Regions from separate parts of the Homo sapiens genome. Here region 1 is linked to region 2. The links come from fine-mapping of genetic effects on gene expression. A gene starts in region 2. The other region holds a variant in brackets. All regions are shown on one strand. Distances are from middle to middle.

The links. PIP is the estimated chance that this variant, and not a neighbour inherited with it, causes the effect. A credible set is the group of variants that fine-mapping cannot tell apart.
Region 1: its variant is the best candidate, but not a certain one, in a credible set for the expression of SNAP47 in prefrontal cortex (BrainSeq, PIP 0.85).

The regions. Positions count from the first base shown.
Region 1 is chr1:227,765,381-227,770,608 of GRCh38, reverse strand. It overlaps SNAP47 (synaptosome associated protein 47), which reads right to left. Exons shown (of 5, transcript NM_053052.4): 4 at 3,526-3,650. Among named protein-coding and RNA genes, the nearest start is that of SNAP47, 33 kb to the right of the region's middle. RefSeq lists enhancers at 3,890-4,639, 4,640-5,228. The variant AAG/G (reference allele first, on the strand shown) is at 2,919.
Region 2 is chr1:227,733,176-227,738,664 of GRCh38, reverse strand. SNAP47 (synaptosome associated protein 47) reads right to left here and starts at 3,230. Exons shown (of 5, transcript NM_053052.4): 1 at 3,166-3,230. It overlaps JMJD4 (jumonji domain containing 4), which reads left to right and starts at 3,363. Exons shown (of 6, transcript NM_023007.3): 1 at 3,363-3,653; 2 at 3,849-4,014; 3 at 4,633-4,758; 4 at 4,984-5,251. The coding sequence starts at 3,392. RefSeq lists silencers at 2,892-3,181, 3,642-3,841.

The DNA.
Region 1 (5,228 bases), 32 kb before region 2:
GGGGGTCCCTGAGGAAGATGCAATGCATTCTCCAGTTCCTAAAAAAGAGAAACAAAAGGAAAGAAAGGGATGTTACCTTCTGAAAATAGTTTCATAGAAGGCAGGGAGCCCCAGAATGACTTCAGAATGTTCCAGCAAATCACCAGAACTGGTCCACATGGGACATGACGCTGTGGAGTGGGCAGAGGGTTTCTGCCAAACAAAGACGTGAGGACAGAAACACCTGGCTCCCCACATGCCCAGAAGCTGCAGTCCCACACCTCCACGTGAGCCCTACCTGAGCCCCAAGTGAGCCTGACCGCACCCTCAGTCTCACCCCCGTCCCAGCACCAGGCTCGGCTCCCTGGGAACCCTTTGACTCTGAATGGAATGAGTTGCATGGCTTTCCTGTTACCATGTGTGTTTGCATTTGTTGTTTATGGAGACGTCACAGGCAGTGGTACGCTGGTCGCCCCATGCCATAAGGCAGGAGGCTGAGGCGTCACCCAAGCAACCCCTGGGACCTGTGCCCACAGGGACCGGCCATGGCACATCTGTTCCTATCAGGAACCACGGCAGGAGTGCAGCAGGCTTCTTTCCCACCATCAGGCACCAGCGAGGCTCCCACCCACTCTCCCGCCAGACCCAGTGTCTGTCGACACTGAGTGTCCACCTGGTTCCTCCCTGGAGACAGAGGGACGTGGACACAGCAACCCCAAAGCAGGACAAGACAGATGAGGCTGCATGAGCTGGAGTGTCCCAGGGAACTGCCCTAGACCACCTCCAGTTCTACTGTGTCCAGGCACCGCGTCCATGGCGTGGGCCCTAGTGGATTCCACAGCCGCAAAGAGAAGCGGACAACAGAAGCAAGTCAGGGGCTCTGTCAAATCCACCTCCTACAGCCCCCGGCCCTCCACCCTCCACAACCACAGTGACACAGTGGCCAGGGCCCCAGAGACAGAAGGGCTCGCCGTGTCACCCCTGCCTGTCCTGTGTGATCACAGCCACCCTCTCCTGAGCACCCCCAGTTGCAACCCACACCACTGGGACACGTTTCAGCATGATGGCTTTAATAGCATCTGCAACAAAAACCACAGCTGGATGAAGGGGGGTTTCGTGCATTTTTATTTTCCCCAGAAATGTAACTCACTCTGGCTTCTGCTTGAGCTTCAACTGTGCACTAGGAATTCTCTAAATAGGAAACACATGTATTGCCTCAAAAAGACAGTCTCCTGTGAAACTAGGCTCCTCCTGCAAGGAAGGGGGCCCGCATCTGACCAACGTGCTGCCCTTGCCCCCAAGGCACACCAGGCCTTCCTGGGCCCTCCCAACCCCATACCTTGGGTGACTGCTTCCTCCCGCTCTGCCACTGGCCTTGATGCCACAGTCGTGAATGTGAAGCCTGTTCCTCCCGGTGTTGAGCCACTGGGCTTGCTGGATCTTTAATGATGGCAGTGCCCATGCAGCCCCAGGGGAGACACAGCCTGGATGGCTGGTGGGGAGCCCCACTCACCCTCAGCTCCGTGCAGTCACCTGACCACCTCCCCAACGCTCCCGGGCTTTGAGGTGAAGAACACGCCACACGTGACAGGAGAGTCTGATGTGTGGACACTTGAGGGCCTCTCCAACTACATGGCCACCATTGCAATTAACAGGTAAAATTCCTATTTTTTCATCTTAAAGCTTTGCTCCTACTTCAGTCTAAACACAACCGTGGGATACAGTGAGTATCTCGGCCGTGGACACCTTTGTGGGGTGTGGGAGTGGGGTGTGCTCAGATCCTGCCAGTCTCAGCCACGTGCCGAGGCACTCTCAGGAGGATGGCTGGGAAAGAATCAGGTAAGTCTATCTTTACAGTATTGGGATTTCTCAAAAACCCTGAGCAAACGAGACCCAGGCCAAGAATGTTCTGGAGGCAGTGAGTGTATCTGAAGGTGACTAGGAACCTGCAGAGTGAGCTGGCTACACCTACCAGGCAGTGCTGTGTGTGCCATTACCAGACATGACTAAGTGAGGCCGGGAGGAAAAAGTGACAGGCTGTGTCCACTTGAATTACCCCAGAGCAAATATGAACACCTTTTTCCCCAAACAAGCTGGCCTCAAAGGAGTTTATGCCTACACAGACACGTAAAGTAAGAATTGGTTTTTAAAAACAGGCATAAGAGACAGAGTGTCTTTATCCACCTCCTGGTGGACATGGGCAGAGCCATCCACAAAACACTCCCTACAAAAACAGGGCCGGGCCTGACAGAGCCCCAGACCCACCTGCCGACTCAGAGGCTCAGGGACGGGGAGCCCATGCCCTGCGTGGACACAGAACTGCAAGATCCAAAGTGCACAGTCTCAGCCCAACAGACAGCTTTGCTTTTTCCAGGAATCAACTGTAGGGGAAGACGAGACGGAAGCTGCACCTGGAGACTGCATGTGCGCCACATACCCTGTGGGACACACCCTTCAGCAAGGGCTCAGAAGGTGGGAGCACTGCCTGGATACTGGATGGTGCTGAGGAATGACTTCCTGTTTCCTAAGGCGACAGTGGCAGTACGGTTCTTTCTGAATGGCTCTTATCCTTTAATGATACATATGGAGATATTTACAAATGAAGTGATATGATGACTGAGTACAGCTTCAAAAATTACTTGGAAAGCCAGCATGTTAGGCAACAACCTCTGGACAAGATAGGAGTATTTACACTGAACATTAAAATTCCAGCCTCCCAGGCACAAAGTGCTGAGCCTCCTTAAGAACCAGTGCTCAGCACATGAGGGCTGAGTGAGCCATGCACCCGACTGTGCATGCATACAGTGCACACACAGAACACGCAACACACAGCAGGCATGTACCTGCATGCATGCACAGTATACAGAGCACACATGCACGCACATGCACAGCACACACAGAGTACACATACATGTACAGTACATGCACGCTCCACACAC[AAG/G]ACATGCACATATACACATGCCCATGCACAGTACACACAAGGTACACATACAGCACATATACATGCATAGTACATGCAACACATACACCACATGCACAGCACACACATGTGCATACACACACAACACACACAACACACACATGTACTCACAAGTACACACACATGCACATGCACATACACAGTACAAGTACATGCATAACATATGTACACATAGCACACATACTACACACAAATGCACAATGTGTACAGTACATGCACACTACACACAGCATGCACATGTACATGCACGGTAAACATACACACCTGTGCACACACACACACGGACATGTACAATGGGTGCAGGTGGTAGCCAGGGCAGCTGTGTGTGCATAGGAATGTGTCTGAATGTGGTGCATGTTGTGTTCCAGGAAGTGTGTGGACCTGGGACGGACACTGCCCTTCCTCCCTCCCTGCAGCTGCCGAGTGGAGGCCAGCAGCTCCTCCTTGGTGCGAGGCCAATACGGATGGATGACCCAGAGCTTGTTTGTGATCAGAAAGGCAAGAGGAGCAGCCTGCGGGAAGACTGGGACACAGCGCTGGCTGGCATGGCACTGGGGACATCTTACCTGGGTTAGTTCCTGGGTATCTGCCTCAGAAAGGGCTGGCAGGCTTGTCTGCAGGTGCAGTGCTGTGCCCTCCTGGTCTCCTGCGGGTGGCTCACGGTGCAGGGTACGGCCCATCAGCCCAGATGCTGCAAGGAGAGCAGATGGTCAGCAGTGACATCTCTCGGAGTTGCAACAACCCTCGTGTGCTCTGGATGGCAGAGCGTGGTCTTTGAGGCGGTGTTCCTCCCGCCACCACACGCAGGACTGCTTCCTCTCTCGACCTCTGTGAGCCTTGCCTTGCCACCCGGCCCCGAAGGATTAGGGTCTGCAACACTGCAAACAGACGGTGGCCACTCTGTACCTCTCAGAGTAAAAGCCCTACATCCCAAGTGGTTTTATTTTATTTTATTTTTGAGAAAGGCTGAAGATTTGGAGTAAAAAACACAAGAATCATTGAACTCTGGTGAAATGCACATCACACACGACTGGGGAACTGCAGCGACATCTGAGCTACTCTGCAGAAGGCTGAGGTTCTGGAGAGCACAGGAAGTGGCCCACAGCCCAGGCCAAGCACTGCCACACGTCTGCGCCACCGAGGTGGGAGGTGAGTCAGAGCTGCCCGTGGTCAGGCTCAGAGAGGACCTGGGTGTTTCCACCCTGTGGTGAGCCTCAGGGCTCCAAGCCACCTGCCAGAGGCAGTCTCGCTCCGCAGAAGGTGGCCCAGTGTGCCTCCTGCAGAGGCCACCTGCCCTTTATTTACAGAGCAGCTTCAACAGCAGCCTTGACACCCCGGGGCCCAGATAAGGGCGCAATGTTGTTTGCTCTTCTGCAGCACACGCAGCTCCCCTACGTCTGGTGCAGCCGTCATTTACGAGGATGTCAGGAAACAGGCAGGGAGAGTGCAGCTGCAGTGCCAGCTCCTGATGGGGCAGGCAGGCAGGTGGGTGGCCTCAGCATCCCTCCCAGGTTCCTACCTCAGCCAGCAGAGCCCGTACCCTCCTCAATCCTGATGGATGCAGCCCGGGAGCAGTGGCTGAGCGTGACATCAGAAAAGGAGAGGAAAGGGGGGATACCTGGGGGTGCACTCTTGCTGGGGCCAAGGGCATACCCCCTCTAGCCTATCACTCCCTAAATGATCTTGACAAGCTCACCTTCCAACCCCACCCTCCACAGGAGAGATGCCACCTCCAAGATGCCACCCCCGCCAGCCTATCAACCCCCAAATGATCCTGACAAGCTCACCCTCCCTGACAGCACCCGGCTGAGCAGAGAAGGACCAGCCTTGCCCAGGGCCACAGGGGACTGAGCACAGGGATGGCCCTAAAGAGGGAGCAGCTCCAGGCCCAGCAGATGGGTGCGAGTGCAAGTGGGGAAGTGGGGTGAGACTCAGGTGGGAAGTAAGGGGCTCCCTTCACAGATAGCACCAGCGGGACAGATTGCCCAGTGGGCTGTTTTCCTATCCCACTCTTCAGAAACAAACTCTGGTTACAACCAACAACAATTTCACAACCTAGGTTTGCAACACCCAAGCTGTATGTGGGTGCTCTCTGGGAAGCTGCGGCCCACTACTGTGCTTCTCTGAATTTGTGCATTACCCATAGGAGCCTGCAGGCCCTCACATGAAGCTGCTCACTGAGGAGCCCTTCTCTGAAACACTGAGCCACAGTGCACAGGCCAAGCTAGGCTGGAAGACACAGCCACAAACTCAGAGGATGTGTGCCTCT
Region 2 (5,489 bases):
AGCAATTAAGGAACAATATGTGGCAAGATCAATTAAGGTCAATTAATTGTCAATATTGAGGTCAATATGTGGCAAGATGTTACAGCATATTGTTAAATAAAAAACAAAAGACTAAAAGCAGCAAAAGTTTATATATGTATATTATACACGATGGAGAAAGAGACTGTGTATGTGTGAGTGTGTGTGCATACATGTGCGTGAACGTATAGGCAAGGACTGGGGGGAGAGAAGAGTGGAGAGAGAGAATGAATGAATGAATGAATGTATGTGTGAAGGAATGTAGAAAAGCCGGCTCTACACCAGGAATAAAAAACGGTCATCTCGGCTGGGTGTGCGGTGGCTCACGCCTGTAATCCCAGCACTTTGGGAGGCCGAGTCGGGCAGATCACAAGGTCAGGAGTTCGAGACCAGCCTGACCAACATGGTGAAACCCCGTCTCTACTAAAAATACAAAAATTAGCTGGGCGTGGTGGTGCGCGCCTGTAATCTTCGCTACTCAGGAGGCTGAGGCAGGAGAATCACTTGAACCTGGGAGGCGGAGGTTGCAGTGAGCCAAGATCATGCCATTGCACTCCAGCCTGGGTGACAGAATAAGACGCGGTCTCAAAACAGCAAAAACAACAAAACAAAAAACAAAAAACAAAAAAACCAAAAAAAACCAAAGCAAAAAAACCCCAGTCATCTCTGGACGGAACTGGAGGTGATTCTTTCTCTGCAACTGTAACTTCTCCAGACATTCTGATTCTCTAGTGTAAAAAAAACCCCAATAAACAATTGCATACCGTGATCACACAAGCCACAATAGGGCTGACTAGGAAGGGACCATAGCACGCACTGAATCACACAATCCCCAAAACAACTCTCCGCCTCCTGTCCCTGCCCTCATATCCCACCTTTACCTGGACTCAGACTCCCAAAACTCACTTTCCTCCTAGTCCTCCCTCCAACTCCTCAGACCTTGGTCCTCCCTCTTCTGCTCCTCCCTGTTCTCCTGGGTAAACCTCACACCCCTTGGAAAGAGTCTTCCAGCAAGGCTCAGAGCCCCAGCACTCCTAGAACCTCCCATATCCCCACTTATAAGAGTAAATAAAACAACATTTCCATTGCTTCATAAAGGGAAGGCAGGTGCCCCTCTCCCGCTTAGGATGCCTCTGTTTGGTCTGGAATGAGATAGCCCAGTGTCCAGATTTTACAAGACACAGTCATGGTCTGATGGCCCCTAGAATGTCATCAGACCTCCAAACCTAACTCAAAGGCCTCGCACTGTGTGCAAACCAGCACAAGCTGCCTCTCATTTCTCTGGGAGAGATGAGCGGTTCTAACTGTTCCTCCTTCCACCTCCCTGTCAAGACGCCTGGGAAATGCTGCCCAGACTCTGCACTCTCTCGCAGAGCACCTATGTGCACACAGCCTGCCAGGCTTCGGGGGCAATAAATCTGCTATCTTTCCTTCTGCATCCATGTGGGTAGCTTTGAGCTGATTTCTCCAGCACACCAAGACATACATCACATAGGGTCCCCCATGGCCCCACTTTCGTGTCCTGGCCGAAAATCACAGAGTACCCTGATCCCTCTGTGCCCCAACCACAGGTTTTCCCCACCAGGCTTCAACCCAATCCAGGGCCTTTAACATTTCCAGGCATGGAAGAAAGTATCTAGGTTTACTACAAAGAAAACGGCCTTGGCCCTGAGCCAAATTCCTGAAACCTTCCTATAAACTCCATAACCCACACCCCTTCCAAGAGACATACCTAGGGAGGACATCCCTTTTCCCTTACTGCCCGTCTCGAGGACTACCGCAGCCCACTCTATATGAAAGTTCCCCTAACAAAACCTCTAGGCAGGGCCTGGCGCAGTGGCTCACACCTGTAATCCCAGCACTTAGGGAGGCCAAGGCAGAAGGATTGCTTGAGCCCAAACGTTCAACACCGGCTTGGGCAACACAGAGACCCTGTCTCTACAAAAAAAAAAAAAAAAAACAAAAACAAAAAAACAAAACTAAGCTGGGCATAGTGGCTCATGCCTGTAGTCCCAGCTACTTGGGAGGCTGAAGCAGAATTAAAGAATTCATCAAGCCCAGGAGGTGGAAGCTGCAGTAAGCTGTGATGGTGCCACTGCATACTGTCTCAAAAAAAAAAAAAAAAAAAAAAAAAAAAAAAAAAACTGCTCTGGGCTTACCATGCATTTAGCACTTCTTTCTTTGGTATCCCAACTGGTCCCACCTGAGGATAGTGTGGGGAACTCCCTTGCCGCCACTTTTGGGGTAACTCCAGTTGCAAGTTTGGCAAAACACTCCTCATGTCACTACTCCGATGTCCTCCCACTTCAGCCCTGCTCATGTGTACACAGCCCCAAATCCCTACCCACACTCCCACCACACCTTCATTTCACACCCTCCCTCATTCCCCACCATCTTCTCCAGACACCCGTCATCCCCTGGGGCCCCTTGCCATGCCCTCCAGGTCCCCTGTGGGCCCCATTCGCCCATCTAGGTTACCCTGCCCCCTCCAGCCCTCCCACCATTTTCCTCCAGGTCCCCACCATCCTCTCTAGATCCCATGTCCCCTCCAGGTGCCACTGATCCCTCCAGGAACCCACTGTCCCCATCCCTTCCAAGTGCTACCGTCCCCTCCAAATCCCCACTGTCCCCTCCAGGTCCTCAATGTCCCCATCTCCTCCAAGTGCCACCGTCCTCTCCAGGTCCCCACCGTCCTCTCCAGGTCCCCACTGTACCCATCCCCTCCAGATCCCACCGTCCTCTCCAGGTCCCCACTGTCCCCATCCCCTCCAGGTCCCACCGTCCCCTCCAGATCCCGTCTCCATCCCCTCCAAGTGCCACCGTCCTCTCCAGGTCCCCACCATCTCCTCCAGGACCCTACCATCTCCGCTAGATCCCACCATCCCAGGGCCCCCCAGCTCTCCCTCTGGGTCCCACCGTTCTCTCCGGGTCCCATCATCCCTGGGCGCCCCCGCACCGCCGCACTCCCGCCCCCAGAACCGCCTCTGTCCCCGCCCCTCTCCCAGCGCAGCCCGCATACCCCCCACCCCCCGGGGATGCGGGAAGGAGGGCTCGGGCTGTGTCAGCCACAGCGCGCGGACTGAGCCGAGGGCGGACGCTACGGCTTGGCTTGGGCCGGGCGCCCAACAGACCAACACCGTCGCTCACCTGAGGGACGCCAGACGAGTCCCAGAGCCGACCGCGGCGCCTCGGCCGCTCGGCGCCTGCGCAGTGAAGACCGCGGCGAGCCGCGCGCATGCGTGCAGGCCCGGAGCCCCAGGCGCTGGCGGGGCAGAAACGCGGCGCCCTGCGTCTTCTGGTTCCGAGGCTGGTCCTCACCGTTTCCGCTCCGGCGGAAGTGAGGAGGAGGGTCCTTCGACCCGTGCTGAGCTGGATGGACCGCGAGACGCGCGCCCTCGCCGACAGCCACTTCCGAGGCCTGGGGGTCGATGTCCCCGGCGTCGGCCAGGCTCCGGGCCGGGTAGCCTTCGTCTCGGAGCCGGGCGCCTTCTCCTACGCCGACTTTGTGCGGGGCTTCTTGCTGCCCAACCTGCCCTGCGTGTTTTCCAGCGCCTTCACGCAGGGCTGGGGCAGCCGGCGGCGCTGGGTGACGCCCGCGGGGAGGCCCGACTTCGACCACCTGCTACGGACCTACGGTGGGGCGGCGGCCGCAGACCCCGGGCGGGGAGGAAAGGCCGGCGGGACCCAGGCCCGGGAGGCCCCCGCCTAGAGAGGGGCACCAGGGAGGGTGAGGGAGGCCAGGCGCGTGGCCCCTGGAGAGTTCCTCTGCAGACGGTTTGGAGTGAGGACGGGGCCCAGGGAGATGGCATGGACCGTGCCTTTCATTTCAGGAGACGTGGTTGTACCAGTTGCAAACTGTGGGGTCCAGGAATACAACTCGAACCCCAAAGAGCACATGACTCTCAGAGACTACATCACCTACTGGAAAGAGTACATACAGGCGGGCTACTCCTCTCCCAGGGGCTGTCTCTACCTCAAAGACTGGCACTTGTGCAGGTAATGGGGCTTGGGACGCACCGAGGCGCTGCCTTCCCTAGCGCTGCGTGAACCCAGAGGCCTTTCTGATGAAGGTGGCCCCTGGGTGCACAACGGAGCTATTTTTCCCCGTGAGGCACTTTAATCAGTTTAAAAGAAACTGGATTGTCTTCCGCATGGCTGCAAGTGTTGTTCTTTGGGAGGTCAATATGGTTTTTTTTCCTTTTTTTTTGAGAGAGATCTCCTCAGCCTCCCTAGTACCTGGGATTACAGGAAGGCGTCTCCACTCCCGGCTTTTTTTTTTTTTTTTTTTTTTTTTAAAGAGACTAGGTTTCACCATGTTGCCCAGGCTGGTCTTGAACTCCTGAGCTCAGGTGATGCATCCACCTCAGCATCTCAAAGCACTGGGATTATAGGCATGATCAGTACTTTCTAATAAGCAGAACCATTGTAGTCAGACTGCCCCGCCCCCTCCCCCGCCAGCAGCGTCTGGCTCAGAGGAGGGTCTGGGGCTCTTTGGGGGCTGCAGCCATCTGGAAGCTCCACTGGAGCCGATTGGTCTCAGTTGCCCCACTCGTGCTGCCCTAGTCTCCTCGTGCCTCACGTGCTGTCGGTGGTGCCCTTGCGCCCTCCTCACAGGGACTTTCCGGTGGAGGACGTTTTCACCCTGCCTGTGTACTTCTCGTCCGACTGGCTGAATGAGTTCTGGGATGCACTGGATGTGGATGACTACCGCTTTGTCTACGCGGGGCCTGCGGGCAGCTGGTGAGGCCACGGATGTGGGAGTGGAACCCGAAGGGGCCTGGTGACAGAACGGACTGGGAGGCCCAGGGTGGCAGGAGGGGGGCTGCTTGGCACAGGCCTCACAGTGGGTGCCATCCCTTGAGACCAAGGGGCCACCCCTCCTTCAGTTGGACCAGGCCTCTGGGGTGCCAAGCAAAGCCCATACCAGCCCCTACAGGCATGAACCAGGCGCTCTTGCTGCCGCAGGTCCCCGTTCCATGCTGACATCTTCCGCTCCTTCAGCTGGTCTGTCAATGTCTGTGGGAGGAAGAAGTGGCTCCTCTTCCCCCCAGGGCAGGAAGAGGCCCTGCGGGACCGCCACGGCAACCTGCCCTACGACGTGACCTCCCCAGCACTCTGCGACACACACCTGCACCCACGGAACCAGCTTGCTGGCCCACCCTTGGAGATCACGCAGGAAGCGGGCGAGATGGTGTTTGTGCCCAGTGGCTGGCACCACCAGGTGCACAACCTGGTAATGTGCTGCTTCTCCTGCCCCCTATCAGGGGCCTTCCTGCAGGAAGACGGCAGCACCACCTCCCCACTCTCCCAGCCAGAGCTGGGCTGGAATGGGGTGGCTCATGGGTGAGGCTGACCCCTTCACAAGGTGGTGTCGCTGAGGCCTAGCCTCTGTTTCACCCACTGCCGGTCCCTGGGTCTACTTGCTCTGGGTTCACTGTGGCCTGAGGTGGTCCGAGCCCGCCACCCACTTC